2 separate regions of the Homo sapiens genome follow, and region 2 is linked to region 1. The links come from fine-mapping of genetic effects on gene expression. Tissue or cell type: sun-exposed skin. Region 1 holds a variant in brackets; the other region holds the start of a gene. All regions are shown on one strand. Distances are from middle to middle.

The links. PIP is the estimated chance that this variant, and not a neighbour inherited with it, causes the effect.
Region 2: it holds the start of HELT, and the variant in region 1 is fine-mapped to the expression of HELT in sun-exposed skin (GTEx, PIP 0.96).

The regions. Positions count from the first base shown.
Region 1 is chr4:184,996,478-184,999,236 of GRCh38, reverse strand. All of the region lies in intron 1 of LINC02437 (long intergenic non-protein coding RNA 2437), which reads right to left. Among named protein-coding and RNA genes, the nearest start is that of LINC02437, 8.5 kb to the right of the region's middle. The variant G/A (reference allele first, on the strand shown) is at 1,333.
Region 2 is chr4:185,016,948-185,019,706 of GRCh38, reverse strand. It overlaps HELT (helt bHLH transcription factor), which reads right to left and starts at 1,217. Exons shown (of 4, transcript NM_001300781.2): 1 at 752-1,217; 2 at 216-320. The coding sequence starts at 778. RefSeq lists enhancers at 228-807, 808-1,386, 1,387-1,967.

The sequences.
Region 1 (2,759 bases):
TAAGATATCTGGGATTTGCAGTAAGATGAACCAAAATTTGTCATATATTGATAATCATTGAGCTGTGTAATGGGTATATGGAAATCCTATATCCTATTTCTCTACTTTTGTTTATGTTTGGAATTTTCAATTTAAAAAAATTTAAAACCATTTTTATCAAATACTCTCTTTTTTTAGATGGAGTCTCACTCTGTTACCCATGCTGGGGCTGGAGTGAAGTGGTGGGATCTTGGCTCACTGCAACCTCCACCTCCCAGGTTCAAGCGATTCTCCTGTCTCAGCCTCCCAAGTAGCTGGGACTACAGGCGTGCCATCACGCCCGGCTAATTTTTGTGGTTTTAGTAGAGAGGGGGTTTTGCCATGTTGGCCAGGCTGGTCTTGAACTCCTGACCTCCAGTGATCCACCCACCTCGGCCTCCCAAAGTGCTGGGATTACAGGCGTGAGCCACCACACCCAGCCCAAATACTCTTGATATAAAGAAGATATAGATATCAAAAATTGTAAAATTTCTAGAAAACAGCAATTATGAAACCTGTAAAAAATAAGGCAGAGCTCATGGGAGATTTTAGTCTTAAGTATTTAAATCAGTCCAAAAAGGAATAATGGAAAAAAGGTGAATTAGTATCCAACTCAAAAAATTAAGAAAAGAAAAGAGTGCAACAAAATACACCAAGAAAAGAGGGGACACATTAAACACAGATAAAAGCAGATAATACTGAATTAGAAAATGGAAAAAGGTAGTGCCAAATCTAAAAGCTGGTTCTTTAGTACAAAATAAACCACTGGATGACTAGAACTAACTGGATCAGAGGCTTATTAAAATAATGCTAGAATGCATGGCTTTTTACCCAGAAATGTTTGCAGTGATTGCCCAATTAGACCATAAACTTGATTATACAGATGTTAATAGCAAAGGCAGACCCAACTCAGAATACTCATGCAGGAGGGAAAGTATTTTGAAAAAGGAATTCTGAAAAGATAAAATGAAGCAGTTGCACCATAACTGATTTTCAGTTAATTTCTGCCTAACATTGAGATGTGTCCACGGGCAGAATATTTTTCTTTCTGCTTATTATTTTGGCCTGGATGACCTCTCTTAGTTCTTGCTTCTACTTACCAGAACCAGATATAAGTAGCAAGTACAGCCTCCTGCAAGCCATGGCGTACCTCAATTTCAGCACTAAAGTATTAGGTTGGTACAAAAGTAATTGTGGTTTTTGCCATTGGGGATTATAAATCATTCTACTATAAAGACACATGCATACATATGTTTATTGCAGCACTGTTCACAATAGCAAAAACTTGGAACCAACCCAAATGCCCATCAATGA[G/A]AGACTGGATAAAGAAAATGTGGCACATATACACCATGGAATACTATGCAGCCATAAAAAAGGATGAGTTCATGTCCTTTGCAGGGACATGGATGAAGCTAGAAACCATCATTCTCAGCAAACTAACACAGGAAGAGAAAACCAAACACTGCATGTTCTCACTCATAAGTGGGAGTTGAACAATGAGAACACATGGACTCAGGGAGGGGAACATCACACACTGGGGCCTGTCAAGAGGTGGGAGGCTGGGGGAGGGAGAGCATTAGGATAAATACCAAATGTAGATGACTGGTTGATGGGTGCAGCAAACCACCATGGCACGTGTGTACCTATGTAACAAACCTGCACCTTCTGCATATGTATCCTAGAACTTAAAGTATAATAATAATGTAAAAAAACACAATTGCTTTTGCACCAAACTAATACTTTTTTTGATAAATTTCTAGCTAGCAACCTGAGGCCAGTTAATTTTGGCCTCTCATCCCCACGGTCTCCAGCCCCTTGACTGCTGTTCCCTCTCTCCTTTCTGCCTGTGCTTCCTCTCCCCAGCTCGACATGGCTCTGTTGAGGTCACCTTGCTGCATCTCGCCTCTTTCCCTCCATGGCTTGGATCTATCATCCCTTGGAAGTACTCCACCTGTGGGAGTCCATATGCCTCTCTGCCATAATCCAGTCTCTCCCAGACCTTCCAGCTCTCTCATTAAATATTCAACAAAAAATTAATGAGCACCCGGTGTGTAGGAGGGACTGTGCAAGGGACTGCGATACAGCGATGAACCACACAGGCATGGTCCCTTCTCACAAAGACCTGCACCTGGGGCAGAGCACAGTGATCCAATGATGACTTAACTAAAGGCTTAGTTACAACCAAGGCAAATGCTGTGAAGAAAGCACCACTTCACATCCCATCTCCCCCACATCCTCCAAGTCTGATGAACCACTTCCTATGTTCACTTTTGTCCTTTCTAGCCCAGACCCCACAGAACAGCAATTCCAACACTCTCTTACCAGCTCCCTCCACTCCATTGCCCTCTGTTCTTTGGCAAACCACCAAGCATGGAGTAAATTAATTTATTATTATGTATTTTGAGATAGGATCTCACTATGTTGCCCAGGCTGGATTTGAACTCCTGGGTTCAAGCAGTCCTCCTGCCTTGGCCTCCTAAGTAGCTGGGACTGCAGGTGTGAGCCACCTTACTCAGCAACATGGAGTAAATTCAGATTTACATCTTCCTTCTTTATACCAGGAACCTGAATGATGCTGATGAACCATACTTCAGCGTGAATGGGAGCCCCAGTGCTTTGACTCCAACTGCACTGCCCACTCCTTTTTTTTTTTTTTTTTTTTTTGAGACAGAGTCTCACTCTGTTGCCCAGGCTAGAGTGCTGTGGTGTGATCTCCACTCACTGCAGCCTCTGCCTCTCAG
Region 2 (2,759 bases), 20 kb before region 1:
TGCTGGTCGGGCACTGTGGCGCTGGAGAGGACCAGCGAGCGGACGCGGCTGCGGATCTGCGCCAGAGCCTCCTGAGGTTCGCCCTGCGCTCAGGCCCCCCGCCTGGGAGGGGCCCGCAAGTGAGGTCCTCTGTGTCCGCGGGCTCGGGCGTCTCCGCAGAGTGGCCGCAGAGGCCTCCCAACGCCTGGCACCCGGCTCCGGGTCGCCAACGTTACCTGCTTCGCCAAGGCCATGGGCACTGTCTTGCCCAGCTCGTTCAAGCAGCGGTTGATCCTGTCCCTCCTCCGCTTTTCTATCACTTTATGAGAAACGGGGGTTCTCTGCGAAGAGAGGGTTGTATGTTTAGGATGGCTTTGCCCGGGAAGTCGTCAAAGGCGCGGCTCTAGCAGCTGGGTGCAAGCCGCCTCTCCAGCCGCGCACACTGCTCAGATTCGCTCTAGGAAGGGACTCCTGGCCCGCCACGCTCGGGCCAGGTGAGCTCTGCCTTCTGACGCCCGCGCTGGCGCGCTCCCCTTCCAGCCACCCTACCCAGGCCTTTGGGGAGGTGGCCGCCAGCCTCCAGGCAGGACTTCTACCTGGTTGAGCACCCTCCTCTCTCTACCCCACCCCCTTCCCAAACCACTCGAGATTCCTCCACACTCAAAGTCCCGTGCGGGCACTTCCCTGCCATCGGTCCACCCAAGTGGCGGGTCGGTGAGTCAGATGCCTCCACCACCAGGGCGCAAGTGCCATTTGGGCTCAGCCGACTCACTTTGCGTTCCTTGAGCTTGTCTGACATCCTGGTCAGTACGCGCCCTCGGGAGAGGCGGTGGCGCGGGGCACCCGTCCACTTTTCCGCCTCGTGTGCCTCCTCGAGTGTCCCAGGTAGACTGCAGCCTCCCAACTCCGAGGGCTGCCTTATAAAGCGGTCATCTAGGGCTCCAGATGCATTCACGAGTTGAATTATTCCATAGGATTAGGGGAGCTGCGTTTGGAGGATGTATGCATTCAAGATCAGTTTTAAAGAAGTTAAGAAAAAAAAAAAATTAGCAGCCGAGGGGGGCGAGCTGGGGGCAGATCAGCTTTGTTAATCCACGTGGCCCTTCAAAGGACACGTGATCGGCCCAGGAATAACATTTGCATGGCAACAGCTCGGGCGGGAAAAGGAGGCGGTAAACTGGGGCCGGCGGGCGAGCAAGCGCCTGCAGCAGTCGCGGGCGCGGAGCGCAGGGGCGCAGCGGCCGCGGGCACCGGGGGGCGAGGACCCTCACAAAACAGTGTCGCCTCTTTTAGTCCCACCGCTGAGTCTCACATGATCGCCTGTTTACAAATCCCAGCAAGCCCGCCGTCCCAGCGCCGAGTGCGTTTTAAAGCCTGTCCAGAGTCATTAAAGTAATTAAGTAAGCCTTTAATAGGCTGTTCCGCCGGGTTCAAGGGAGAGCTCTTGGAGACGGAGGCGCCCCGTTTGTTCCCAGGCTTTTCTCACACGACTTGGTGACACGTCCTTCTCCCCCCTTTTTGTTTACACCGCTTTATTTGTCCGGACATCCCGGCAGGTGTGGGGCTGCGGCTGGCACACGAGGCTCCCGCCTCGCCTCGCCTCGCCCCTCCCGCCGCTGTTTGGCACGCGACGCTCCCCCCTACTCCCTGACCACGTCGCTGGCTTTCTTTTCTCCCCACCCCTCCTGCTCCCTCTTCGCGGGGGGAAGAGGCTCAATTTGTAGCCTATTATCCTATACGAAAATGTCCATTGAAAAGTATGAATAGTTTCATTGGGCTAAATTTTAATAATGCCAGAGGGTGGGGGAGGAGAGACTGGCGGGCGTGTGTGTGTGTTTGTGTGTGAAGGGGCGGGTGGGAGGATTGGGGGGCAACACGGAGAAGAGTGGGCCGAGAAGAAAAGGGGGAATGCAGCTGGCCCAGGCAAGCATTATGCAACGTCACCTGCGAGAGGGGGCGCCTACAGACCCCTATTCATTTGCCTAATTTTGGTCAATTTAACAAACTTCAGGAGAAATTATTGTGGCTTTGTCAGGGAGGGTGAAGCCTTCTGATCGAATTAACAGCATGTTTTGATCCGGTAAATGTCATTAGAAAGGGAGAAACAATCGCGCTTAGAGGGCTCTGAGTAATGCGCCCAAGTGGAGACGCCAAAGCGCACGGCTCACAAAGGGAGCAAGTAGCTGCCACAGGGAACTTTTGTACCCGCCCATCGCCCAAGTTTTGACACAAAAAGGCATTATTTCATACTTGAATACGTTTAATCCAACGATTGTCTATTTTCTGCAAACATATTTTCACAGCATTGTTAACTTTTTATGTCTCCCTTTCGCTGGCGTCTTTTCTTAACGTTTGGGGGCGGGAGAGCGCAGACACTTTGGGCATCAATATTTGTCACTGAAAAGGGCCCTGTGAAGTTTGGGAAGTTGATCTCTTTTTTATGGTTTTAGAAAGCGAAAATATCGGGGGGAGGAGGAGGGAGGGAAGGCACGAACAGAAACGAGGGAGGAAATTTGCTGGACGGGCCCAAGGGGAAGGAGGGGGGCGGCGGCGGCTGGGAACTCTCTTGGCCGCCTGCGCCTCTGAGGGCAACCTGGCCCCGCGGCCAGAGGCCACCTCCCCCAGGACGGGCCTCGCTCACACTTGCTGCCTCGGATCCTATACTCTGGGGGCTCTGAGCTTGTGGGGTGTGGGTGGGGGGTGAGCTTTCTTGCAGATTGAAACGATAAAAATGATTTTTGTTTTATGGCCCTTTCTAGAGCCACCGAACTCTCACCTCT